Linked DNA regions of Homo sapiens: region 2 is linked to region 1. The links come from fine-mapping of genetic effects on gene expression. A gene starts in region 1. The other region holds a variant in brackets. All regions are shown on one strand. Distances are from middle to middle. Region 1 holds the start of KLHL23 (kelch like family member 23). Region 2 overlaps CFAP210 (cilia and flagella associated protein 210).

Region 1 (12,186 bases):
GCACTGTTCTAAATATAAATTTTTAAAATTTCAGTAAAGTAATAAGCTTTCATTCTCAAAGAAATATACTCTGAACCCACCCTTGTAATCCCAGCACTTTGGGAGGCCAAGGTGGGGGGATCACTTGAGGTCAGGAGTTCAAGACCAGCCTGGCCAACATGGTGAAACCCCGTCTCTACTAAAAATACAAAAATTACCTAGGTGTGGTGGCACATGCCTGTAATCCCAGCTACTCAGGAGGCTGAGGCAGGAGAACTGCTTGAACCCGGGAGGCAGAGGTTGCAGTGAGCCAAGATCACGCCACTGCATTCCAGCCTGGGAGACAGAGTGAGACTCCATCTCAAAAAAAAAAAAAGAAAAAGAAAAAGAAATATACTCTGAACCACAAAACCATTGAAACTGTTATATCATCCTTAAAAAACAGAATCAGAAATGTATGCTAGTTTACAATAGCTCCTTAAATATATGGACTTTTCTTATTTCTTTTGCAGAAGAGGGGTCAGGACATTCAGAGCCCTCCTGGAATCGGCAAGTAGTGGTGAGACTCAGGCAAAGACAAAAACCAGGGGAGCAACAGCACCGGGCTTTCTGCTACCTTCTCCCACCCTGGTGTGACAGTGGTCACAACTTCACATGAAATCAATTTCTGCTCTATAAGAGCTGACATGTCCTTCAATACCGACATTCAGGACAATCATGCGTAACATTTATAGCATGCTTACTCTGTGTCAGACACTGTTCTAGGCACTTCACAAGCATAGATTAATTTAATCCTCTCAATGATCCGAGACTAGGTAATATTGTCATCCCCATTATACAGATGACAAAACGGGGGCACAGGGTGATTAAACAATTTGCCAGAGCTCATCAGCAAGTAAGAGGAAAGCAGGGATCTGGATGCAGGCAGTTTAGCTTCAGAGGCAGCGTGCCTGATCCCAAGACTGTTCTGCCTCTCAGCTTCCTGCCTGTCATCCAAGGATCATACCAGGTCAGATTTCCAGACCAGGTCAAATTCCCACACTCTCACTAGCATTAAAAAAGAAACAGAAAAGCCTGGGAAGAAACATTTGGGACAAAATGATACAAATTTGGTAACGACCTACCAGTTGTTTTTGTACAACTCCTCAGCACCAATGAATAAATACAATGAAATAAGATTCCCGTTTAACTTTTTTTCCAGTGGGAGAGAAGGAGAGCAAGGCAAACAAATCGCCAAACACAGCAGAAAATAGTGTTTATCAGACAGATACCGAGACCCAGGGGTGTGCCGGGTTCTGTGGGCCACATGAGGGAGAGTATGGTGTCTGCCCCTCTCAGAGAGGACTGAATTGCAAAAGCAGACGTTGTCTCTAGTTCCTGGAAGAATGTACTTTGTTACATCCTGTAGGGACCAAACCTTCCAAGGTTTTAATGAAGGACCTCTTGAGAGCTGATCAGCGTATTTTGAGAGGAAAAAGTTGAATAGCAGAATTTTAAAGGGTTCAATTTTAAGAACATGAAAAAATGAAAAACTGTCCAGATTTGTCTCTTCATCTAGCCCTTGACTTGAATATAAATTCTCATAACTCTCAGACAAGTTGGGAACTATGCTATACTGTTTTTATCTGGAACATTCTGTGTAGCATTATTTGTATAATTAACTATAGTTCCTAGATAGCATCCCAAAGTGATAAATTCAAGAGAAGTGAGACTGCTGGCCTAGCTCCAGACATCTAAAAAATACAAAATAAACATAATCTCCACTTACCTTTAATCATGTTTGCAATAGGAATCCATTTCTCTTTTAAAGGATCATAGAACTCAGCCTCTTCTGCTGGAGCCCCTTTTCTGTAACCACCTAAAGCATAGACACAGCCACCCAAGGTGACTGCACAGTGGTAATACCTGGCATTGAGCATTGGCAAACCTTCTGTCCATTCATCACTTTCACTGTTATAGATCCACACTGTGTCAAGAGCTTCTATGTTATCCGTCCTGTAGCCCCCAGTTACATAAATGTTGGGTCCTAAACATGTAACACCATAGCTCTCCCTGGTATAATCTGGTATTTCTGCTCCCTGAATCCAAACATTTGTCAAAGGATCCCATATGTGAACCTCTGATAAAGGATGCCAGTAATAGCCTCCAATTATATACATTGTGGCTGTGGACCTCTGGGAAATCTCTTTATGCATGGGATTCAAGGCATTGTATATTAGGGAGCGGATCTTATTTTCGGTGAGCAGGCAGCTTCTTTGAAGGCCTAAGGCTGTTTTTAAGTACACTGGATCTATATCAATGTTGATATAGCTCAGTAGATTATAGAGGCATTCAATTCGATTTTCTACATCATGAGCAGTCCACTTAATAACTGGCTCTATGATAGCTTCTTCTTTCCAAACACTGAGATTCTTTCTGGACAAGATAAAGAGAAACTTTTCAAGGCTGATTTCCAGAAATTCTTCTTGTTGCCACACTTCCTTAAACTTTGAACATAGAATTCTTCGAGATTCCTTCTCTAGTTCTGGACACACATGAAATTCTGCAAAGGAGTGCATTCCAATACAATTATCAATATCCAAGTGCCTTACCAAAAACCGCTCACAAGCCTTCTTTACTGAAAGGAACTGTAGCAGATCCGCTGCCTCAAGCAGGCTTTGAACATTTCTTTTAGTTATTTCAATTTGGGAAGTGTATGCATAATTTACAAGGCCTTCCAGAATATCATGGTGGATGCCAGAGAGTTTTATTTTATTTTTAAATTTTTCTTTCATGTCAGCTGTGAACATTGCCTTAAAATAATTGCTGCAAGCAGCTAAAACGGCTCGGTGACAATGGAAAATTATGCCTGAAGGACACTGAAGAGTAATATCAGTAAATAATCCATCCAAGTAAAATGTTCTGAATGCATCCAGAAAATCCACTGGATGTGTTGAATCCTTGAAAAGATAAATATAATCTTCTTGTCCTTTTAGAGCCATGGCTGCAATAAATATGAAATAACAAATGTGTTTTCAATGTTGCACATTCTCTCAAATAATCAACGCTAAATAACTTGACTATCATCGGATATACTCCAAAACTGGACTAAGTTCAGCATCTAAATAATAAATGCAAAATGTGGATGGACTGTTTGATCATTTATATGGTGGTCAATTTAAATTCAGGGTAGCTCGGAGCTTGAAATGAGGCTCCTGGATTTTTCAGTAGTCCTTTTGAGAGTACTGATTTGCTATTCCATTCACCGCAATCTACCCTGGCCTGGCGTTCGGAGATGAGATCCCACACTAGGCAAGGCAAGTGTCCGAGGGTCACCCCACTCGAGGCCGGACCTCAGCTGTCTCGGCTCGGCCCCAATTCAACCTTTTCCCCAAGCTCGTCTCCCTTTCAAATCACATCGAAATGCCAAGAAAGGGATGATGGAAATATAAATGGACAAGAAGAGGTCTCGGAAAAGGGAAATCCCGAGCCCTTTCGCTTAAGGAAGGAGAGAAAGGAAGGCAGCTCGGCGCAGCCCTTGCAGCCCTCGCCCCCTCCCCCGCGCCCGCCGCAGGGGTTTCCGCGCGCCCCGCGCCTGGGCCCCGGCCCACGTTCCCGCCCGGAGACCGCCCCGCCCCGGGGCCAGGAGCGGGGCTGGACTCGAGGGCGCCGCGTGCCGCCCGCGGGCCCGGTGCCCGCGTCCCTCTGCCCGGCGCTCCGCGCAGGTGTGGGAAGGACGCCGCAGGCAGCCCCAGCGCAACGCGTTCGGCCCGGCCCGGCGCCCGCGCGGCCATTGTCTGCGCTCCTCTCCCGCGCGGCCTCGCTGCCCGCGCCCGGCCCCGCTGCCCGCGCCCGGCCCCGCTCCCCGCGCCCGGCCCCGCTCGCTCCCAGCAGGCCGGCCTCGGGCTGCGGGTCCACACCGCACCTACCTCCCGCCGGGGCTCGGGACGCGGCGCTGGCCCGCGGGCTAGTAGCGAGCGGGAGCGGGGACGCCTCCGGCCCCTCTGACCATCTTTGGAAGAGGCGCTCGGAAGCCGCCAGCTAGTGCCGCTCCACCCCACAAGCAGCTCCTATTTTGGTGTCCCGGCGGCTCCCCCGCCTCCACCCGAACAGCCCCCCGCACGGTCTGGGCGCGAGGCCACTCGCGGGAACTCCCCCGTCGCCGGGCCGTGCGGCGAGCGGGGCGGGGCGTGCAGGCGTGAGCACGGCTCGGCCCCTCCCCAGCGGCGCCCCCCACAGCAGGTGGGACTGCTTCCCCAGGAGACAGCGCGCGCCGCCGCCTTCCCCTTCCTTGGCTCGCTCTCTGTCCCGCGCGCTCTCTCACACCCGGTCGAGCGTCTTCTCTTAGATAAACTCTGAGTCCTGAATTATTAATAACACCATATATGAGTGTGTGTGTGTGTGTGTGTGTGTGCGCGCGCGCGCGTGTGCATGTGTGTACACTCCCCTCCCTCAGTAGGCTTCGCCAGCCCAGACTCAATCGTGAGGACAGAGAAGGGGGAAAGAGTGGAGAGAATGGGGCACAACTAAAGGTCAGGGATTGGAGGCGCCGTTGAAATGCCAGAAGTAGCCGGCCTTTCCCACAAACGCCATCCCACCCCCAGCAAAGCACTCAGGAGGGCGCCTTGGTGCTGGTGAGCACATCAGGGGTTAAGCTGAAGCTTTGAGAGAAACTTTGGGCAGCCGGGGCCAAGGCGAAGTCCAGGCGAAGTCCAGTCGTGCTAAGATTCAGGTTATTGTATTTAGAGCATAGCAGCTGGAAGGAGCAGCCTTTCTGGTGACGGCCACTCTAGTCACAGATGTCTATGTGGTACACAAAGTTCATTTTCTTGTTCCAACTAAAGCCAGTATCAAATATTTTTGTATATCATTCATTCATTCATTCGCAAGATTTTATTAAGTGCTTCTAGTGCCTGATAGGGATAGACACTAGTAGTGATAAGAGTGTTGACAGATGGTCCCTAGCTCACAGGGACCTTCACCACCACCAGAGGACCATGTGTTTCCCAGAGTATGGTCTCAGAAACGCAATATACATGAATGGCCAGATAGTATGTGACAACAGAACTCTGAACCACATAAGAAGCCCAGGAAGCCAGACCACAACCTTGGTAGCAGCTGAACCAGAACAGTCAGGAAGTAGTCAACGACTGGCAATTTCCCTATTTTTTTTCTTTTTTGAGACAGGGTCTTGCTATGTTGCCCAGCCTGGAATGTAGTCGCACGATCTTAGCTCACTGCAGCCTCGATCTCCTGGTCTCAAGAGATCCTCTGCCTCAACCTCCCAAGTACCTACGACTACAGATGTGCAATTTTTGAAAAATTTTAAATATTTTTTCATGACAGGGTCTCACTATGTTGCCCAGGCTGGTCTCAAACTCCTGGACTCAAGCGATCTTCCTGCCTGGGACTTCCAAAGTGCAACTTCCCTATTTTTACCCCTAGTTCCACCTCTGCACCAACCAGAGAAAGCCAAATATGTTCCGCAAACCCATCACATAAAATACCCCCGCTTCTAGTAGCCCACCTGCAGCTTTCCCATGCCAACAACTTCCAATCAGAGCATACCGGGGGCTTTTCTTCACTTCTATAAAGCTTTCCCACTCGTCTGCCCCACCTTTGAGCCTCTGACAAAGTGATGGTGAGTGGGACTCCCTTCTACAGCAAACTCTGAATAAATAGCATCTGTTGGTTCTCCTGTGGGTGGGTTTTAGTTTAATTCCACAAGTCAGATCATCTTAATTGAATTATGTAAGATGCTGGTTATGCAGCCCCCACAACTACCACACCCCACGCACAGACGTCTGCGGGGTGGAGACCTAGGGATCTGCATTCTAATCAAGGGCAGCAGGTGATTCTTATGGACAAATAAGAGAATGTGTTGGACCCAAAAGGAAGAAGGATGAAAGTTTAACATCCCAACATCTGGTAAACAGTATAGTTAGAAAAGGAAAGCATATGAGATTTAGTTTCGGGCTTAAGGCTCATCTCTGCCACTTATCCAACATATAGCCTCTCACAAATTACTAAACTTCTCTGATCCTTCGTCTTCAGATCTGTAAAACACAGACAACATGGATACTTTCTCAACCTAACCTAAGGTTATTGGAAAGACAAATTAATAATGAAGCACTTAGGACTTGATATATAAATGTTAGCTACTATAATGAAAGAATATTTACACTTAATTCTGCATCACAACCTTAATTTGGAAATTAGCATCTTCTTAACATTTCTTCAGAAATTATGAACTTCATAGTTAATAGTAATTATAGCTTGCCCTTCATAACTGATAGTGATGCTGTTGTCACTGTTGCCATTCAAGGACACAATTGTGACTGATTGAAGGAGACTTCTCTCCATTTTTGTCACTGAAGTGTAGAGATGGCTGTTTTTGCAGCTATAATTACTGTTTGCCAAGTTTGATGTATAAAAAAATATAGGCTCCATCTAACTTGGAGTAAGGGCTTCTGGAATCATAACTACATGTAATAATAAATGATTCATGAATAATAGAATTCACTATATTCTCATTTATGCAGTTATTTCAGATGGCTGCATGAACCAACTAAAACTCTTGCTTTCATTTCGTGATGTTCCCTGGTTGTGAATTACTACTTAAAAGTGTATATCAGTGTATATTACATATTAGACTATTATACTGCTTCACTTTGCTAAGAGAAGAGCAGGTCCTGAAGGGTATTGCCTGGCATAGTTCCTCTTTACCATGTGCTTATCAAAGAGACCATTGCAAATGCTGATAGATTTGATGCATTCAGAAACATATAATTAGCATTCATAAATCAAATAAATTAATGATACCGTTCAAGAAAACAGATGTGCCATCTGTGGTTCCAAGTCTTAAAGAAATAAAGTGCTGCCATGGAAATGAGACATAAATGATTTGGCAGATACTAAGCTTGGCATGGAGTTAGATGACTTATTGACATCACACTTCAGCTTTCAAAGGACTCCGAGTTCTAAAAATAATGATTTTATTTATAATTTTTACCTTATTAGTACATCTTTCCACTAAGTACAGCCATGCCATTAAATGTTTGATATGCTGTGATATCATTAACAATGTGTGTAGATGATGGGCATAGATAGAACATTTTGTATACTTCATTTACATACTGGATTAAACAAGTTGCTGCCAAGTTAAAAAAAAAAAAAAAAGGCCAGGCCCATTGGCTCACGCCTGTAATCCCAGCACTTTGGGAGACCGAGGCAGGCAGATCATGAGGTCAGGAGTTTAAGACCATCCTGACCAACATGGTGAAACCCCATCTCTACTAAAAATACAAAAATTAGCCAGGTGTGGTGGTATACGCCTATAATCCCAGCCACTCAGGAGGCTGAGGCAGGAGAATCTCTTGAACCTGGGAGGCGGAGGTTACAGTGAGCCAAGATTGCGCCATAGCACTCCAGCCTGGGCGACAGAGTGAGACTCCGTCTCAAAATAAAAAACAATAGTAGGTAAAATGTATAAGGCTACCACATACAGCTTTGCAAATTGTGCACTGCACAATTCCAGCTCATGCAACTTAAGTAGAGTACAGTGTAAACACTGCTCTCAGGAGTTGTATAGTACACAACCAACGCAGGTATCTGTGGCTGCCCTGCAGCCGATGTGTCTTGGTAAAACCTTTTTTGGTATGTTTCCTGTAAAATAAGAAAGTGAACATTCTAATAACTAGGTAAAAATGCTTTTGCAAGTCACAGGTTTCCAATTCCTGGTTTCCAGCAAAAGTGAAAGAGGATTTTTGGCAAATAATTTGGAGGGAATGACAAAATGAATGGCATTACTATAAAAAAGGTTTTTTGTTTGTTTTTTTTTTTTTGAGACGGAGTCTTACTCTGTCACCCAGGCTGGAGTGCAATGGTGTAATCTTGGCTCACTGCAACTGCTGCCTCCCAGGTTCAAGAGATTCTCCTCCCTCAGCCTCCTGATTAGCTGGACTATAGGTGCATGCTACCACGCCCAGTTCATTTTTGTATTTTTAGTAGAGATGGGGTTTTGCCATGTTGGCTAGGCTGGTCTTGAACTCCTGACCTCAGGTGATCCACCTGTCTCAGCCTCCCGAAGTGCTGGGATTACAGGCATGAGCCATCGCGCCCGGCCACTATGATAAAATTTATCTCATTCTTACCTATTTGTCTCTGTGAACATGTTTTCTCAGCGATTATGTCTATAGAAATGTTAAGCAGGAACATTATTGAACCTAAATACTGTCTCATTCCAGCAGTAAGCACTACTTGACTTCATACTCTAAATGAAAGTAGCCCTATTCATCAGATTGAAATAATTTTTAATAATTTTTTACTTTTGATTTAAACATATTTATGTTTAATTAATTATAATAATAATTATAATATTAATTAGACCAGGATTTGTAAAATAACCAAAGATATAAAACCATCAAGGACATACAAATTGTAATTTATACACATTTTTGTCACAGAGAAGGTTAAGAGATTAATAAAAGATATTCAGTATAAAACCATACAGAAAAGTCTTTCTTTTTTTTGGCCTGGCCAAAAATGCTTTCTTTGAATGGTTCCAATATGTATGAATTTTAGTTACCATGGTTTAGTTAAATAACACCTGTCCCCTGAGAACAAGGTTTCAAATTTCAGTTACTGAAGTAAATTAACTCTGAGTAACTGCATAAAATACAAATTTGCTGCTAGCTCCTCAGGTCCATGAATTACTACATTAACAAATGCGCATCCTGATCAGTGACCAATCATGTATCTTCTTTCAAAGTCTGTCAGTGATTGATCTCTGTGCATCTGTCAGTTCACATACAGACAGTAAGGCTTGCAGTTGCATTGTCTCCTTGTCTGCTAGTAAAAAACCCATGTGACATTTTACAAAAATGGGTGATTGAGAAAGGGTATTGACCAACAAGGATGAAAGTATGGCATGGAAATAAAAAGTGACAATACCGCAAATAAAATGTGAAATGGCTGGGCATGGTGGCTTACGCCTGTAATTCCAGCACTTTGGGAGGCCAAGGTAGGCGGATCACCTGAGGTCAGGAGTTCGAGACCAGCCTGGCCAACATGGTGAAACCCTGTGTCTACTAAAAATACAAAAACTAGCCAGGCGTAGTGGTGGGTGCCTGTAATCCCAGCTACTCAGAGACTGAGGCAGGAGAATCACTTGAACCTGGGAGGCGGAGGTTGCAGTGAGCCAAGATTGTGCCATTGCACTTCGGCCTGGGTGACAAGAGCAAAACTCCGTCTAAAAAAATCAACAAAAAAAAAGTGAAATGAACACAATGAGGTTATAGAGGAAATAGCTGACCATGGGAATGTTTACACTACCACCATTGGAGAGAATTCAGATATGCAGCCAGGGAACTTAGTGCAGGTGAACTCATGACATAAGTGAGTCACCTTATGTCTCAAAGGAAGTGATCCTGGCAAAAAACTTCACATTAAAGGAACTCTTGGAGATATTTCACCACATCGAAAATGCAAAGGATAACACATTGGAAGTTGATCCAAACGTAAAACTATGACAGTCCATCAAGGCGTAGAAAGATGAGTACGCCAAATCATAAGTTTTATGACAAGAAGGCAAGAAACTAAGCGAACTACTATTGTTAAGTGTTTACAAAGAAACATAACACTTTATCAATGTTTCTAATGTTTTAAATTGCAGTATACTAAGTAAATATCAGTCTTACCATGTTCTTTATTTCCCTATACATTTTAACGAATAGTAAGAGAGTTCATAATGTTGTGACAAAAAAATGTAAAGGTCATAGGACAATCATAATTTTTCCCATTGATTATTTAGATCACATTATACATTTTCAACTTGTACAGTTATTTTGAAGGTCCTGTATTATTGTGCAAAGTGAGGACTGCCTGTATTTTCAGTGGGACAACCTTCTCTAAGAGAAGTAGAATGGAAGTACGAACTCAAGAAGAAAGAAGACTGAGAACTAAATTTTAAAAATGAGAAAATAAAAACTTCCAATAGTTTTTTTTTCTGAACTCCATGTCTCCTGATTCACAATACAGACGCAGCACAGGGCCTGGGCTGAGGTATATGTGGGGTCGGTTTACTCTGCCTCCTGTTTCTATACAGTCAGCGTAAGAACACAGACCATGGTAAGTACTAGGAAGCCAAAAATTTCCCACTTTTAAAGAACAACTTGTTTATGTATTTTTAAATGAATGACAGTGGTTTTGAACGGCTATATTTAGTTTTTACTAAATAGATTTAAAAGTATTATTTAACAGTCATTATTTATAACATGTTAGAAATTACAACCTTGGCAAATATTTAAACTTGTGATGAAAAGTTTCCAATATCGATTTAAAAATATGGAAGTGAGTACATAGTTTTTCAAACTTATTAGATTTGAAAGACCACTGATCTGGTCCCAAAACAGGAATTAGCCTATTACTGTTTGAGGGAGTATTATTACTATTTAAAAGATAGCAGTTTATTTGAGAATATGTTTCTGTGCCACAGAGCTCAATCCCAGATAAAATTAATACAAGACAGAAGGATAATAAACTAGGGCTTTTTCCATTATAAGCGATGGAGAAAGAATACAAGTAAGAGCATTGGCTCAACTAACCCAAGAAAGACTGATATTATTCTATAAGTCAGAGATTAAAGCTCGCCAAAGACTTCCTGGCTCATTCAGTAAAAGCCAGAGTACTTATAACAGGCTCCTGGATCCCCACATCCAGCTCTGCTTTGCCTCTCACCAGGAGGCGGTGCCTCAGGGCTTTCTCCGGGCTTTGCTACTAGCTATTCCTTTCGCCTGGACTGCTCTTTTCCCAGCTACCACTACAGGACTGGCTCTCTCACCTCCATTAGGATTTTTTTTTTTAATTTTCTTTTTTTTTTTTTTGAGACAGAGTCTTGCTCTGTCACCCAGGCTGGAGTACAATGGTGTGATATCAGCTCACTGCAACCTCTGCCTCCCAGGTTCAAGTGATTCTCCTGCCTAGGCCTCCCGAGTAGCTGGGATTACAGGTACATGCCACCACACCCAGCTAATTGTTGTATTTTAGTAGAGATAGGGTTTTGCCATGTTGGTCAGGCTGGTCTCGAACATGTGACCTCCAGTGATCCTCCCACTTCGGCCTCCGAGAGTGCTGGGATTACAGGCATGAGCCACTGCACCCTGCCTTTTTAAAATTTTTGTGGGTTCATAGTACGTGTATATATTTATAGGGTACGTGAGATACTTTGATGCAGACATGCAATGTGTAATAATCACATCATGGTAAATGGGGTATCCATCACCTCAAGCATCTATCCTTTGTGTTACAAACAATCCAATTATACTCTTTTAGTTATTTGAAAATGTATAATTATTATTGGCTATAGTCACCCTGTTGTGCTAGCAAATACTAGGTCCTATTTATTCTTTTAAACTAGTTTTTGTACCAATTAAACATCCCCACAGTCCCCCACTACCCTTCCCAGCCCCTGGTAAACTTCCTTCTACTTTCTATCTCAATTGTTTTAATTTTTAGCTCCCACAAATAAGTGAGAACATGTGATGTTTGTCTTTCTGTGCCTGGCTTATTTCACTTAATATAATGACATTCCAGTTCTATCCATGTTGCTGCGAATGACAGGATCTCGTTCTTTTTTACAGCTGAATAGTACTTCATTGTGTATATGTACCATGTTTTCTTTATCCATTCATCTATAGATAGACACTTAGGTTACTTCCAAATCTTGGCTATTGTGAACAATGGTGCAACAAACATGAGAGTGCAGATGTCTCTTTAATGTACTGATTTCTTTCTTTTGGGTATATACCCAGCAGCAGTACCCAGCAGCAGGATTGCTGGATCACACGGTAGTTCTATTTTTAAGAGTTTTTAAAGAAAGGGTCTTTCTCTTTCACCCAAGCTGGAGAGCAATGGCATGATTACAGCTAACTTCAGCCTCGACTATAGCCTCGGGCGATTTTCCCTGATTCTCCCACCTCAGCCTCCCAGGTAGCTGAAACTAAAGGCATGCACCACCATACCTGGCTAATTTTTGTATTTTTAGTAGAGACAAGGTTTCGCCATGTTGGCCAGGCTGGTCTTGAACTCCTGGCCTCAAGTGATCCACCCACCTCAGCCTCCCAAATTGTTGGGATTATAGGTGAGAACCACCCCGCCCTGCCTAATTGTAGTTTTGATTTGCATTTCTCTGATGATCAATGATGTTGAGCACCTTTTCATATGCCTGTT
Region 2 (16,513 bases), 88 kb after region 1:
TTTTATTAAAACTTTTTTTTAGAGATGAGGTCTTGCTATGTTGCCCAGGGTGGAGGACAATGACCATTCACAGGCGTGATCACAGTGCCCTGTAGCCTCAACCTCATAGCCTCAAGGGATCCTTCTATCTTAGCCTCTTGAGTAGTTGGGACTAAAGGTGCGCACCACCATGCCCAACTTCTAATGTTTTTGTTCACTGTTATGTCTGTCCCCAGCACCGGGAATAGTGTCAGGAGCATAGTAAGCAATCAATAAAACTGTTTAAAATACTATTTTTTGGAATTCTACCAGAAATGTCACCTTTTCTCTGAAGGCTTTCTTTTTTTCTCATTTGTCCATATCATTTTCTAGCTTTCTCATGGCATTTATTATCTTTTGTCTTCTATAACTATAAAGACATTTGCATAAATGTCTTTTCTCCACTTTAAATTGTAATTTCCTTGGAGTATGCACTGTATCCTTTCTCATCATTTCTCACATGCTGCTTTGCCAATTCACTAAGTGAATTTGTCACAACAAAATTATTTTTTATGCAATTTCATAAATAAAAATGCCCTAATTTAACAAGATGTATTCTTATGATGTACCAGGCACATGCTTAGGCTCTTAACTAGAGAGAGGACCCATTCAATTTCTGACCTGAGGAATCTCATAGTGAATTTGAGAGGCCAAAGTAGGAGGATTGCTTGAGGCCAGGAGTTTGAGACCAGCCTGGCCAGCATAGCAAAATCCTGTCTCTTAAAAAAAAAAAAAAAAAAGGAACCTTATAGTGTAAAGGGAGAAATTTAAACAGATCAAGTTAAAAAAGTGCTGTGAATAAATTCCAGACAGAGTATTGTGAGGGGATGGATATTTAGGATTTTGATAACTTTTATTAGATTATTTCCTTGATTTTATTTAAATAAAGGCCTTTTATAGCCTCAGCCTCCAATGATAGAGTAAGCAGGGTAGTCTGATAAAATATTGAAATATTTTCTGTGGCCAGGTGCAGTGGCTCACACCTGTAATCCCAGCATTTTGGGAGGCTGAGGCGGGCGGATCACTTGAGGTCAAGAGTTCAAGACCAGCCTGGGTACATGGTGAAACTCCCTCTCTACTAAAAATAAAAAAACTAGCTGGGCTGAGGCAGGAGAATCGCTTGAACCCAGGAGGTGGAGGTTGCAGTGAGCCAAGATTGTGCCACTGCACTCCAGCCTGGGTGACAGTGAGACTCAGTCTCAAAAAAAATTTTTTTTCTTTTTTTTTAATAGAGTCTCACTCTGTCACTCAGGCTGGAGTACAGTGGTACATAGCTCACTGCCACCTTGAACCCCTGGGCTCAAGCAGTCCTCCTGCCTCAGCCTCCTGAGTAGCTGGGACTACAGGTCCGTGCCACTGCGCTTGGCTAAATTTTTTTTTTTTTTTTTTCAGACAGAGTCTTGCTCTGTCGCCCAGGCTGGAGTGCAGTGGTGTGATCTCGGCTGACTGCAACCTACGCCTCCTAGGTTCAAGCGATTCTCATGCCTCAGCCTCCTGAGTAGCTGGGATTACAGGCGCCTGCCACCACGCCCGGCTAATTTTTGTATTTTTAGTGGAGACAGGGTTTCACCATGTTGGTCAGGCTAGTCTCGAACTCCTGACCTCGTGATGTGCTCGCCTCAGCCTCCCAAAGTGCTGGGATTACAGGTATGAGCCACCACGCCCAGCTTAAAAAATTTGTGGAGATGGGGTCTTGCCATCTTGCCCAGGCTGGTCTCTTAACTCCTGGGCTCAAGCGATCCTACCACCTCAGCCTCCCAAAGTGTTGGGATTACAGGCATGAGCTACCACACCTGGCCTAAAATATTTTTCAGTGTAGATAATTTTAAGATCTTATTTCTTAAACACACACACACACACACACACACACACACACACACAGATTATACATATTACTGTCTTTGGATTTTAGAATATATGTTACTTTATAGTTAAAAAATAATGTCCACTTAAAATAATATATGTAAGGAGCAATGGGGCTCCTGTTAGTTTTGTAAGAGACTGCAAAATATCTCAGATTCCCTAATTAAATTATGTTGGCTCCATTGGACATGTGTTCATGAAGATTTGACGAGTATGGTTATTTTGTTATAGGCTTATGGAGAAACGAAGAGAAAGAATACATAACTTCCTGAGTGAACTGTTGAAAGAGAAACTTGACAATGAAGATATGATTATTGCTAGAGATATTGCAGAAGCTGAGGCTGAATGGGAAAAAAGAGAAAGAGAAAAAGATGAAAAAAACAAAGCAGAATTAAAAACAATTGCAGAATATCGAGCCATTGTGGTAAACAATTCAATTATGAAAATAAAAATAGAAAGACAGAGTTAGGACCTTTCCACTGTGTTTTCCATCTCATCTGCCTCTCTAACCAAAAACTAGCCAAGATATTAAAAACAATGTATGAATTATCTTCCTGTATTTTTGAAATTGGACAATGTTTACTTCCTAACAAAGATGACACGACAGTTACAAAAAAGATATTTATAGATGCAAAGTAATAATCTCTTCTGTTTCAGAACCATCTGAAACGCAAAGGTTATTTGTTATACTTTTCATTTGTAGGTTTTAAAGACAAACCATGTAAAAATTATACATTTCTGTTTCTTAATATTTTAAAACATATCTTACATGACTGTCATAACATTTAATTTGGATAGTTTATACACATTGGAGCAATTTTTTTTTTTTTGAGACAGAGTTTTGCCCAGGCTAGAGTGCAGTGGTGCGATCTCAGCTCACCTCAACCTTCGCCTCCTGGGTTCAAGCAATTCTCCTGCCTCAGTCTCCAGAGTAGCTGAGATTACAGGCATGCGCCACCATGACTGGCTAATTTTGTATTTTTAGTAGAGACAGCGTTTCTCCATGTTGGTCAGGCTGGTCTCGAACTCCTGACCTCCCGAGGTGATCCGCCCACCTCGGCCTCCCAAAGTGCTGAGATTACAGGTGTTGAGCCACCAAGTATGGCTGGAGCAATTAATTTTTTACTTACATATATTTCCCTTCCTTGAGAAGATCTTGCTTTTCATCTTTTTCAAGCCAATAAGGATTGTCCTATAGCACTTGGGTATTTTCTGATATTCAGGAAATAGAACAAAACCAAAGTAAACTGGCCGCATGGGAACCACCCCAGGTGCATGCACTTTTCTGCTCCTGCATTGCTCCTGGCTGACTCTCCTCTGCTTCAACTCTCTGACTCTGTGCCTTTTCAGACAAGACTGGTTGCTATAACTGGTTTTATATGTTTCCTTTGCCTTTAAACATCTAGATGAAAAATAAAGAGGAAGAAGAAAGACAAAGAAAAATAGAGGCTAAAGAACAATTGCTGGCTGTCATGAAAGCAGATCAGATTTTCTGGGAACATGAAAAGGAGAAAAAATGCAAAGCTGATAAAGAACATCAAGAGGTTCAAGATGCCCATATTCAGCAAATGGTAATTACTCCTGAATGTTTATAATTATGTTAGTAATAAGTATATAATACAGAATTCATGCTAGTTTTCTACTCCCAAGCAGTTTCATCAGGTAAGAAAAAAATGGTCATTATGGTTATGACACAATAAAATGTATTAAAAATGTGAGGTTTGTTTCTATCTCCAGTGAAGTTCCCATGTGAGTTTTATCTTTTAAATGAATGTTTATCCTTCTTTAGTGTCTATTATACTTCAGTAAATATTAAAGAAAATACAAATGCATGTGGAGGCCATAATGTTCATCTTGTTTTACTTTTTTCCCATATCTCAGAGACTATGTTGATTGCGATCTCATAGGTTTCAGATTTGAGGAATGGAGATATCAGATTTTAAAAGATGTGTAGAGGACCTAGCATCCAATCATTTGTAACTAAAACCTGTTTTTGAAATGGTTGTACCATTTTCCATTCCTACCAGCAATGTATGCAAGCACAACTTACTCCACATACTCATCAACACTTGATAGTCATCCCTTAATTTTAACTATTCTAGTATAGTGATATCTTATGGCTTTATTTTACATTTCTCTAATGACCAAAGATAATGGACATTTTTTTCACATCCTTGCTAGCCATCTGCATACCTTCTTTTGTGAAGTGTCTATTTAAGAGTGTTGCCAATTTTTAATTGGGTTGTTTTCTTAGTGCTGAGTTTTTTAAAATTGATTTTTATTGTGGTAAAATATACATAACATAAAAAGTACCATTTTAAGCATGGTTAAGTGTACAGTTCAGAGGCATTGAGTACATTCACATTGATCATGGCCACTATACATCTCCAGGGTTTTTCATCATCCTGTACTAAAACTCTGTACATGTTAAACAGTAACTCCCTATCCCCTCTTTTCTCCAGTCTGAGTAACCTCTGTTTTACTATCTCAATGGATTTGATTATTCTAGGTACCTCATAAATGGAATCAGACAATATTTGTCCTTTTCTGTTTGGTTTTCACTTTTTTTTTTTTTTTTTTTTTTTTTTTTGAGACAGAGTTTTGCTCTGTTGCCCAGGCTGGAGTGCAGTGGCATGATACCCACTCTCGGCTCAGTGCAACCTCTGCCTCCAGGGTTCAAGCAATTCTCCTGCCTCAGCCTCCCAAGTAGCTGGGATTACAGGTGCCCACCACCACGCTGGGCTAATTTTTGTATTTTTAGTAGAGATGGGGTTTCACCATGTTGTCCAGGCTGGTCTCGAACTCCTGACCTGAAGTGCCCACCTTGGCTTCGGCCTCCCAAAGTGCTACGACTACGCATGAGCCACTGTGCCCGGCCTCCATTTTTGAATTGGATTTTTTGTTGTTGGGTTTTAGAAGTTTTAAAAATACTCTGTGTATTAAATCTCTTATCAGATACATGATTTGGAAATGTCTTCTTCCATCCCATGAGTTACCTTTTTACTCCATTGATAGTATCTTTGATGTATAAAAGTTTTAAATTTTTGGCCAGGTGCCAAAATAGTTTGTTGTTTCAATCACGATCAAATAAGATCAGTATTTGGAATCCTTCTGATTTACTTGTTGAAGTCTTTAAGAAGTTTTCTTGATCAAATACTTGGTTCCTCTTAGGTACAATTTTTAAAGAAAAAAACAGAATACTTGATTTTTTTTGCCTTATTTTCCAGTTTTCAGACAGTTAATTAGCTATTATCTTCCAAATGTACTTCGAAGGTACTTTACCTTCATCTGTTAGCGTTTTTTAGGATTTTAAACTTAATTTTTTGGAACTTTTTCTTTATATATTTATGCTTAATGCATATCAAATGTGAGGTACCAATCATATGTTCCATTATAGTAATTCTTTCCTTCCATTGTCACTTCCTTTCTGTGCTTCAAGTGGTTCTTTCTGTTCCCTCAATATTTTTCTACATTTACTAAACATATCCAAATTGCTGCTTATTAAGTTCCCAAATATTAGCATTTTACCTTCGATTAGAGATCGATTTTAGCTTTTTTTTGACTTTTTCTCCAATCTTATTGTCATTTTCTACTTTTTAAAACTCTGGCATTTTATCCCCAATTTCACAAATAGTATGTAAACTGAATTTTGAATTGTAGCACTCAATAATGAAAAATTTGATATTTCACACTAATATGGTTGCTCTATTCCATCAAAAATTTAAATTTATGATAGATATCAGGTTTGGGTTACTATTTTATGCCAACATTTTGGATTTTGAGAAATATTTTTATGAATATTAAATATATTCCTAAGTAGTCAAAGTAACTGTTATTTTAAAAAATAAACTCAACATTTCTTAAAATGCCACAGAGAATACAAAATGAGAAGTTGCCAACCAGAGCATCACAGAAAAGCCATAAAAAGAATCTCATCCAATGTAAATTAATATAAAGAATTAAACGACAAAATTTGTATAAAATATTGGTAAATTGGCTTTTGGCAAATTGCCTACTTATTCCACTCAGTGCCTTCTCAACCTACATTGATAAATGTCACTCACTGTTCCAATTTTAAATTTTCGGGAAATAGATAATGTAAATGGTTTTAGTCCAGATATTCACTGCTGATTTAATCTTATGTGGCTGGGGACATAGTATATTGGGCTGACCCAGCACAGTAGAGTTGAGTGAATTCCTCCAGAATAGTGGATGGTTAGAGACAATGGTGGGTGTGCATTCTAAACCACCAAAGTTCACATCTTGTGATTGAAACAGGACTCTAAACTCAGTTACCTGAGTTTTATCTAAATTTCATAATTTTCGCTATTTCACTGTGCTATTTGCAAATGTATCACATAAGGCTATTAATAAAGGTTTCATTGCACCACCACTTTGAGCATGATAGGAAAGATTCTGAAATAAATGATAGTATATAGTTGTTAAATCAGAACTTGTAAAGTATCAATGAGTTTAGAAAATTATACCTACATTTTCAAATGCTATGTATATTTAGAAAGTTCATGTTCTTAACCAATATTAAGTTAAATTTCCTTTCTTTCCCAAATAGGCCAAAAATAAGTTTAATGCAAAGCAAGCAAAACAAGCAGAATTAGATTATTGCAGACTTACTGAAGCTCTTGTGGCTGAAAAGGAGAAAGAATTTCAGGACTA[T/C]GCCAGAGAGGTAATTGAACTTGAATCGGAAACAACAAATAAATATATTTACCCTCTTGTAAAAGCTGTACAGGAAGGACCTGGAGGTGGCCGTGGACCAGTGTTTGTGGACAGAGGTGGATTAAGACCCAGCTATCAGGCAAATGATGTTACTGGAGTCCAGCTCCCTTTTTATAACTCTCAGGGACCAAAATATAATTTTCAAAAGTCAAAGAGAAGGCTAGGTTTTACATGGTAGAAAAAAATTATTTTTAACATTGAGAAGACTAAGTTGTAGCATATATGAGCTTCAAATATAAATGGATTTCAGTTAATAAAGCTGTTCTTCATCTAAGTACAATTATGTCTGATTTAATTGATTGTTCTCAGTATTTCTTTTGGGTATATATAAAACCCCAATTTTGAGATTCCTTTTTTTAACTGTGGTAAAATACACAAGTTTACTTTTTAAATGTACATTCAGTGGTATTAAGTACATTCAAAATATTGTGTAGCCATGACCATTGTGTAGTTCCAGAATTTTTCAGTGCTCTTACTAGAAACCCCATACCCATTCATTAAGCAGTCACTCCCCATTCCCCTTCCCCACAGCTCCTGGTAACTTTATCTGCTTTGCCTATACTGGGTATTTTGAATAAACAGAATCATACTGTGGCCTTGTGTCTGGCTTATTTCACTTAGCATATTTTCAAGGTTCATTCATGTTGTGCCATTTATCAGTGCCTCATTTTGGTTTATGGCTGAATAATATTCTCCTTGATATATTTCTCTTCAGCAGAAATTCATATGCTTATTTGCTTTGTCCTTCAGCAGTTAGTATCAGATAACATTACCAGCATTATTACACTAACAATAGGATTATTGAATGAAGACTTCTTTGTGGTTTATTTTATAGAGTATATCTTACTAGACATGTACACATTATCATGTTTTGAGGTCACTTAAAATAATTCTACATGTAGTTTTGCCAACTTTAGACAACAAAACTTGTTTCCAAAGAGACAAAGCAGATTAGCAGTTACCAGGGGCTGTGGGGAAGGGGAATGGGGAGTGACTGCTTCATGAGTAGGGGGTTTCCAGGTGGAGCACCAAAAACTTCTGGAACTAGATAATGGTCATGACTACACGATACTGTGAATGTACTTAGTACCACTGAATTTTGTGTGATTTTGTGAACTGCATTCCCCCACTGTTTAATTTTTTTTTTCATTTCTTAGGTAAAAAACACAGAACACCTAATTTAATGTCTTAACCATTTCTAAGTATATCGTTCAATAGTGTTAAGTATCTTCATATTGCTGAACAATCTGCAGAATTTTTTCATCTTGCACAATTGAAACTCTGTATAAAACAACTAGTCTCCATTTCCCCCTCCCCTCAGCTACTGGGAAACACCATTCTGTTTCTGTGAATTTTGACCACTACAGTATAGGTCCTTTTGTGACTATTTCATTTAGTGTACGGTCCTCAAGGTTCATCCATGTTGTAGTTTATGTCAGTTTTCTTCCTTTTTAAAGCTGAATACTCCATTGTATGTATATCACATTTTGTTTATTCATTCCTTCATGAATGGACACTTGGGTTGCTTCCACCTCTTGGCTATTGTGAATAATGCTGCTTTAAACATGGACGTACAAATAGCTCTAAGATCCTTTCCATTCTTTTGGATATATACCCAGAAGTAGAATTGCTGAATCATATAATTCTAAATTTTTAGAAACTCATACTTTTCTCCATAGCAGCTGAACCCTTTTACATTTCCAACAGTGCACAAGGTGCACATCCTCACCAACATGTTTTTTTGACAGTAGACATCCTGAGTGGCTGTGAGATGATATCTCATTGTGATTTTGATTTGCATTCCCTAAGGATTAGTGACGTTGAACGTTTTTTCATATGCTTGCTGGCCATTTGTCTATCATCTTTGGAGAAATATCTGTTCCAAGTCCTTTGCCCATTTTTTTCATGTTATTTGTTTTGTTGTTGAGTTGTAGTTATTATGTATTCTAGATTGATCCCTTTTCAGATAAATGATTTGCAAATACTTTTCCTTCCTTAGGTTGCCATTTCACTGTTGTATCCTTTGCTTATTTCTCTTTAAAAGCAAATACACATATATTTTACTTACACAAAATAACTTCGTTCTTTTCACTTAATATAGCTTAGAGACACAACACAGCAGATATAAATATCTTCTTTTCCAACTGACATAGTATTCTCTTGCAAGGGTGTACCCGTTTATTCAACCAGTGGCATACCAATAGATATTTGTGTGGTTTCCAGTCTTCAGCTATTATAAATTCTGTAATTAACAGCTGCCTTTTTTTTTTTTTTTTTTCATATTTTTGTCAGTTAACCTTTGAGATAGATTCCTACACAGGGGAATGCTGGGTAAAGGTGTAAATTGTTCAGTGTATCATTCTATAAGAGACCAAATCTTAGAGCAAACATTACTTATGTCATGAGCCTCTTGGAATCTGATAAAACTTAGTGGCTTTTTCAGCAGTAAGGTACACATACACATATACTCTACAATTGTGCATACAGTTTTAAGGACTTCCACAATGCCCTCTAATAGACTGCACAGCACAGTGACTAACATACATCTAAGATTGTGGCTTAGTATACCTGGGTTGTACTTTTTTAAAATGGCAGATTCTGTAGGCAACCATCATTCTGAGTTACTGTTTGTGGGTTTATGGACCTCGGGTTTTAAAAAATGAACTGTTTTAAAGGAGTAAAATAGCTGGTTATTTAAAACAACACTATCTACTGATTGCCAAATTGTGTGCCAAGGCATACTGAGGAACCACAGTGAACTCACAAATTTTTGAAACAAATTACCTGACATCTGTAAGACTAGCTTGAGGTAGTTCAACATATTAAATGCACTGTGCCTTTTGATGATATCCTGTTTGTAAAGCTGAATTTTCAGCAGCTGATGGGATAAAACTCATATATTGCACAAAATCAATGTATTATAGTAGAGGATGGTGTGTGATCTGATTTTGAGGTTTGAGAAGTTGTGCTGTGACCAACATTTGCACACATTCCATTAGTAACTAATTGTGGTTAAGAATGGAACTGTAAAAATATTTTTTAAAATTTCAAATGGCTAAGTTGTTAGATATACTTTAGCTATGTGAACTTTTTATTTATTTTTTATTAGAGACTGGGTCTCACTCTGTGGCCCAGGTTGGAGTGCAGTGGCACAATCACAACTCACTGCAGCCTCAAGCTCTTGGACTCAAGCAATCCTCCTGCCTCAGCCTCCCAGTTATGGGATTATAGGTGTGCTCCTGGCCTTTTAATAAACCGATCTGTTAGGTATTTATTCTGGCGCAGGGATAACACCATGTTAAAATTACTGAGACACAGGTAAAGTGAACCAAGAAAGTCTGGGAACTTCTGCCATATATCCTTTCCTTTAAATTACATAAATACAATATATAGTGGTAATTAGTAATTTTAGACAGCTATCTTCCCCCATATTATAAAACAGGAAATAAGTTTCTACGTAACGGTTAATTACATAAAAGTGTTATACAACCAACTTAGTTTGAGTGAAGGATAACATAAAACACCAGACATTACTAGTTTTTCTGCCTTATATATACAATTTATTTTACTTTAAATTGGGCTGGGCTTTCTACTAGAGTATACTGAGAAGAAAGGTAAGGCTACACAATGTTAATCACAAAATAATTCAATGAAAAGAACTGAAGCACAGCAGTGGAAACGCAACTACTCTAATCTGCTAATTTGATAAGAGAAACTCATAGATAAAATCTGTGGCAAAGACATAAATTGGAACAAGGCATTCTGATTACTGAGAGGACTTTGATGGGAGTGGGGAAATGTAAAAATTATGAAACAAAATTATGATAACAAAGTTATCAGGTAAGGAAATATGTTTAGGAAAGAAACCTAGGAAGTAAATAGAAAAAGCGAATTGATGCCTGAAGTTATTTTAATGCACAGTTTGCAGTTCATTTGTTGCACTTGCATTTTATACATTTTCTTGGATAAAGCTTTTAAGAACACTCCAGATTTTGGGAGTTTAATAATATTCACGTGTTAACACATACAAACTACTGAATGTTCAGAAGGTTTTTACCTAGGTATATACCTTTCATTGTCAATATTCAGTATAACTAGGCATATATTTTCAATGACGCACTCTCAACTAAGTGCATTTTCCCTACATGTCTAATGTAAGAAAAAACAGCCCCCAAACTAGGTAATGTTTTACAGAATTCAATTAACATTTATGTTTACATGACTTCACCACTCTGTTATAGGCACAGGATCTATTACAGTGATCCTAATGCTGAAAAAAATGCGGAGGACTTAAGAAGCAAATGGTAGTGATCTAGTAGACAGTAATACAAATTCCGAGCTTAACCTTGAAAGTTTGCTGGGCAAAAGACACACTACAATCTGAAGTATTATGATTAAATATTTACATTAGAACATTCTCAAACCTGGAAATTTTCCCTGCTGGCTAAATTCTTAAAGCTCAGTATTGTTAAAACTTTGTTCAGTTTTTTCATAATGTAAATACCTGTATATCTGAGAGTAAAAGTATGTTTTAATTGGTTTATTTTCATTATTTAGCTTTTAATTTTTAAAAGGCTGGATAATACAATTTAAAAAATACAAAACCAAACTGTTTATTATAGTATAGTTTATTTAATACAATGTTTAACTATAAAAGTTAATACAGCTTCCAAGTTTCAATTTTGTAAAATGCAGTTTGCAGAAAAGTTCAACAATTACTAGACTAATGATAAGAGAAGCAGCATTTTGAAACTAATTTTACAATTGAGAAGACAACAGCTTTTTTTCTAAACTTCATTAAAAAAATATAATCACAGTGACTTTTGGGCTAGGAAAAGAAGTGCATTAACTTCATTTATGTTTTTTCCTTCCACAAAGAGAGCGGCCACAATTTTGTACATCCCACATACAAATACCCAATTCATTTATCTTTCAAAATACTATATACACACAAAAGGGGAAGAAAATATACAGCATGTGCTTTTGGTAACATATGGAATTTGCTTAAAGAAAAAAAGTCAGAAACACAAATCCACCCCACCACTCCCTCACATACCTTTTAAAACAAACTAAACCCCTCAACAACTCCCTACTCCAACCTTGTTGACGGAATTTTCTTATTCATGTCATTTTTCTTTTCCTTTAATATATACCTCTTTGTCACACAATAGGCCAAAGACTTTGCACTTGCCCGAATCCACTGAAGGCAGTTAGTTGGGAAGCTCACTATGGGCAGTTGTGCCAGTCAATGCTGTACTTCCTGGGGGCTTATTAATTTTTAAAACAAGTATTTGTAACAAAACACATCTTTTCACAATAAACAGCTTATCAACCTATAATCCTTATTCAATTGTAAATGTATAAATCCAAAATGAAATAATTACAGTAAACATAATCAAAAGGAAACAGAAGAACACCCATTTTGTTTCTTTATAACAAATCAGCTATGGTAGGTATTTAAAGTACCTTCTGGTGAAGGCAAACCCAACAAGCTTCTACAGAAATTTAGTATAAAAAGTTTAGTGTGATGAAAACTATATTACCAACTGGAATGAAGTACAATAAACTACTAACAAACATACTAACTTGCTACATATACTAACTAAAATAAATTAGAATTGTCAAGTTAATACCACTACCCAAAATACCAGAGATCCAATATGTGCCTATCCATAATGAAGAGTTCTTTAATTGTTTAGCTCCATACCTTCCACTAGGCACAAATATCAAAGGTCATTCCGCAAAGCCGTCCATGCATCAGTATCACATTTGTGCAAAGGCAGATTTATCAGATAAATTCTTTGCAACTTCTGAGGGCTTCAATTAAGTAACTTAAAACTATGAACTTACCAACTATGTAGTAATTTAATCAAAGAATGTTTTAAAGCAATCCAGTAGCTTCTCTACTGCTCATTTCATTAACATTAATCTCACCATAGTGTCAATTTCTGTGGCAGATGGCTTACCCAGAAAAATAATTCATACAAAATAACCATGAAAATTCTACATATTGAAAAAATTTTCTCAGCTATCACCAATTGAGCAATAAATCAGTTTAAATATTTTTAAAAGGATATTAAGTCAAAAATACTTTGACATGAACCATAAATTTAGACATAACTATAAAACCAACTTGATGGGAAAGTAATAGTTGACTTTTAGGAAAACAATGTTCAAAGCAAAAACTAAAGATGGCACAACTACTAAATGTAACAAAAGGAAAGGACCATTTGAGCCGTGTGCTATTCAGATGCATGCGCAGATCCTGAGGTACAGTTAATGCTGTTTAATCATTTTAAAAATGTTCTTTATATTCTAAAAATAAAATCTAGTTGATTGTCCTCTCAACTCCTTCACATCTGTTCTGTAAAGAGAGCTAATAAAACTTTAAAATAAGGACTATAAATAATGCGGAGCATGGAGTTGCTCTTTTGATAACCCAAACAGAATATTGCCTATAGAAATTACTACAATTTTTTTCCCTATGGTTACTTTTTGAAACTCTAAGATTTGGAAATCCTTATGTATAATTTTTAGTAGATAAAGCTCTGGGATCAGACAACATGTAAGAATTTTTACTTAGCATGGACTTAAAAAAAATATTTAACTGTTATTAGAAATCCTTTCTTAAATAGCACCTTTCTTAAAGCTCAAATAGTTTATAACAACAATTTTAAAATGCAGTTAACTGAAATTAAGACAAACAATAACTTGCTTAAACTACATAACGTTATATAGCTTGGGCACTCAGACTCAATTATCCCTAATGTGGGTTTGTGGTCAGTCTCTAAGGAATCAATCACCTTGGATTTTATAATAAACATCTACTACTTTTATCATCGGAAAAAAAAATTTTGGAAAGAATTCATTGTGGATATCTGTATTACAATTTTCCAAGCAATCTTATGGTCATTACACTATTCATTCTGCAACAGCTACCACAACGCCAAATATATCAATATTGCATTAATCAATAGTGGGAAGTATCATGTTAATAATTGCTTTATTCAGTACAAATAGCATTGAGTAGCTACTGGATTTACCAAGAAGCTACCTTGGTAACAGAGTTGACACTACACTGACAAATATTAAAGTACAAAACTCTCTAGAGAATCCTATTAATTGGAATTTTGAAATTCCTTTTCAAATGAGGCAGGTTTTATGTTTGCTGGATGTTCAATGTTTTATTTAGAAGAGATTACAGAATAAAAGGCCACACATCACAAAAATGGCAAAATACAACACCCAAAACTCTAAATGGACTTTGGATATGTTTAGTGTTTAACTCTGTAAACTATCAAAATTTGCAACTTTCTACTCTACTCTATATGGCAATGTTATACATGCCAAGTTAAAATAACATTAACAGTAATGGTATAAAACCACCTGAAGAGAAAGAAACCAGAGTCATAAACATGCTATAGCCTATCGTGATACATATATAGAAAAGATGCATTTTCTTGCCATTTGGAACTCACAGCTATGAGAGTTAGAGAAGTCAGTTCAATTAAAACAAACAAAATCCATGCAGAGTTAACACTCAATTCTATATAGGTTGGAGGCCAAAAAAGAGAAATCTTAGAAGTTAATGTCTCAATACTAACAATTTTTAGAATCTGTATAGCTTAAGGACCTGCACAAATGGTATGTTTTAATGAGAAAAGCTTTTTTTTTTTTAAAGTTTAGAGAAGGGTAATTAATAATTAAAACGTTCCCAAAACTCTTCAAACCAAAAGCAACACAGAACTGAGAATCACAATCTGATTTTCCAAGGTATAGTTCCTGTCAAATGCTGTATAACAGCAACTCAAGCTCAATCAGTACATCAACTGAAAAAAATTACTCTTACGATTTTTATAGGCAGTTAAGTAAAACACAACTAGACAGGAAAAGCATTAATAGGAAACAAGCTATGGCTCGAACTATAAAGAATAGAGTATGAAGTGCAATATAAATACATCTATTTTAAAGCACAAATTACTATAAAATCAAAAGTGATGATTTAAGATCTCAGGTTATTAGGACCCTGCTTCTGTGTAATTAAAAGAAACCGCTGCAAACCTCTATTTATAACGCAATCAGAAAATCTATACAAGATGTCTTCTAGTGGCTTCTAAAGTTACTTTAATCATGAGAAACACAAGCTTTTGCAACAATGCATTGCAACCATTCCAAATGGCTGACTAAACAAATTAGGATGCTATTGGCTAATTGTTGCAACACAGTAATGCATACATAAAATAGTTAAACACAGCACACAGTACTACACCAAAGTGTTTTTCTCATGTCGAGTTTATTAAAACTTTAGCAGTACAAATTATCCAGATTGCAGATTATCAAAAAATCAACTCAATGAAATCCACATTAAGAAAAAAAAGGACAAACATAAAACAATCCAAAAACAATGAAAAGGAAAACAACATAAAGGAGATTCATTAGCAAGTCTCTCAAACTTAAAATCCGAAACAGAATGGAAGTAAGTTTATATAACTCACTCATCCGCTTTTGTCTTCATCTGTTCCAGGGCTTGATTCATGATCAAATTTTTTATTTTTTTCATGTACATGGTCATTTTCTTGACCTTTTGATTTTTGGTTTTCTTTTTCCACTGAGGATCTGATCTTCTCATCCTCCTTATTTTTCAACATGGAGGACTTTAATTCATTGTCCTGACTGCTTTGTTTTATTTTTGAGAAGGGACTTTGATCTCTATCAGCCTTTTTTTCCCTGCTGTTATTTGAGCTATTATGATCACGACTTTTAGAGTACATTCTTTTCTCACTCTCAGAATTTTCTTTTCTGTGTGAGCTCTTACTCTCTTGGTTTCTGTATTTGTCTTTGTTTCTGCTTTGACTTTCTTCTCTCTCTGAGCTCCGTGAGTCTCTCCTCCTTCTCCTCCTATCTTTACTTCTTGATCTTCCTGGTGGTGTTCTTCTCTCTCGGCTTCGTGACCGTCCTCTTCTCCTGTATTCCTGTTCTCTGTATCTATGGTACTCCTTGCTTCTGCTGCGATCTCTGTCATGGGTTCTTGATCGCACTCTTCTGCTTCTGTCCCTACTTCTGCTTCGTTCTCTTGTTCTGCTATTATAACTGTGTTTACCTTTAGTTATATCACATTCTCTACTCCTGGATTGTGCGCGTCTATCCTTTTCCTTACTTTTACTGTGATCATGCTCATTACTCTTTGATTCTAACTGTTTAGACTTCTCTTTACTTCTACTCCTTTCCTGATCTTTTCCTTTAGAATCAGACTGCTTTTCTTTTTCTTTAACATTTTCATGATCCCTTCCTTTACTCCTTGACCTCATCCTCTTTTCTTCATTTCTATTATGTTTTGAATCTCTTTCTTTACTCTTTGATTTCTCTTTGCTCTTACTCCTACTTTTAGATTTGGCCCTTTTCTTCACTTTGTTTTTATACTTGTCATCTTTTTCTGAATTTCTTCTGATGTCTCTCTCTTTGCTGTTAGATTTATGGTCTTTAACTTTCTTCTCCTTTTCATTTTTTCTGTTTGGACTCTCAGATACATTCCTGTGATCTGTTATTTTTCTCTCTTTTACTCTAACTGGACTTCTCTGATTTTCTTTTATTTCATTCAACTCACTCCTAAAAAATAAGAAAAAGAATTGGGGAAATGTTATTAGGAAAAGAACTGTAGATATTATTAGCTAAAATGATATTCTACTTTTCTTAAGGTATTCAGCAATAACTAAAATGACAATAACTTTATGTATAATAGTAAAAGCAAACACTTATCATTACATTTGAAATAATAATAGTTAAATCTTACTTATCCCCCTTGATCCATCTTTCACCACTTGATACCCTCATTCTTTGAGCTCTCTGCATCTCTTGCCTCCAATGTGGAGGAGTCTCACTACGTCTGAAACGATCCCTT

The links. PIP is the estimated chance that this variant, and not a neighbour inherited with it, causes the effect. A credible set is the group of variants that fine-mapping cannot tell apart.
Region 2: its variant is the best candidate, but not a certain one, in a credible set for the expression of KLHL23 in whole blood (TOPMed, PIP 0.70).

Annotation. Positions count from the first base shown.
Region 1 is chr2:169,725,789-169,737,974 of GRCh38, reverse strand. KLHL23 (kelch like family member 23) reads right to left here and starts at 4,143. Exons shown (of 4, transcript NM_144711.6): 1 at 3,888-4,143; 2 at 1,748-2,962. The coding sequence starts at 2,960. The region is part of intron 3 of PHOSPHO2-KLHL23 (PHOSPHO2-KLHL23 readthrough); the gene reads right to left. It overlaps LOC124900531 (small nucleolar RNA SNORA51), which reads right to left and starts at 10,103; the gene lies at 9,972-10,103. RefSeq lists silencers at 3,453-3,632, 3,743-3,812, 3,833-4,272.
Region 2 is chr2:169,636,121-169,652,633 of GRCh38, reverse strand. It overlaps CFAP210 (cilia and flagella associated protein 210), which reads left to right. Exons shown (of 9, transcript NM_001085447.2): 7 at 2,113-2,305; 8 at 3,288-3,452; 9 at 6,452-7,209. The coding sequence ends at 6,793. It overlaps PPIG (peptidylprolyl isomerase G), which reads right to left. Exons shown (of 14, transcript NM_004792.3): 13 at 16,406-16,513; 14 at 11,228-16,221. The coding sequence ends at 15,111. Among named protein-coding and RNA genes, the nearest start is that of CFAP210, 50 kb to the left of the region's middle. RefSeq lists a silencer at 4,789-4,989. The variant T/C (reference allele first, on the strand shown) is at 6,556.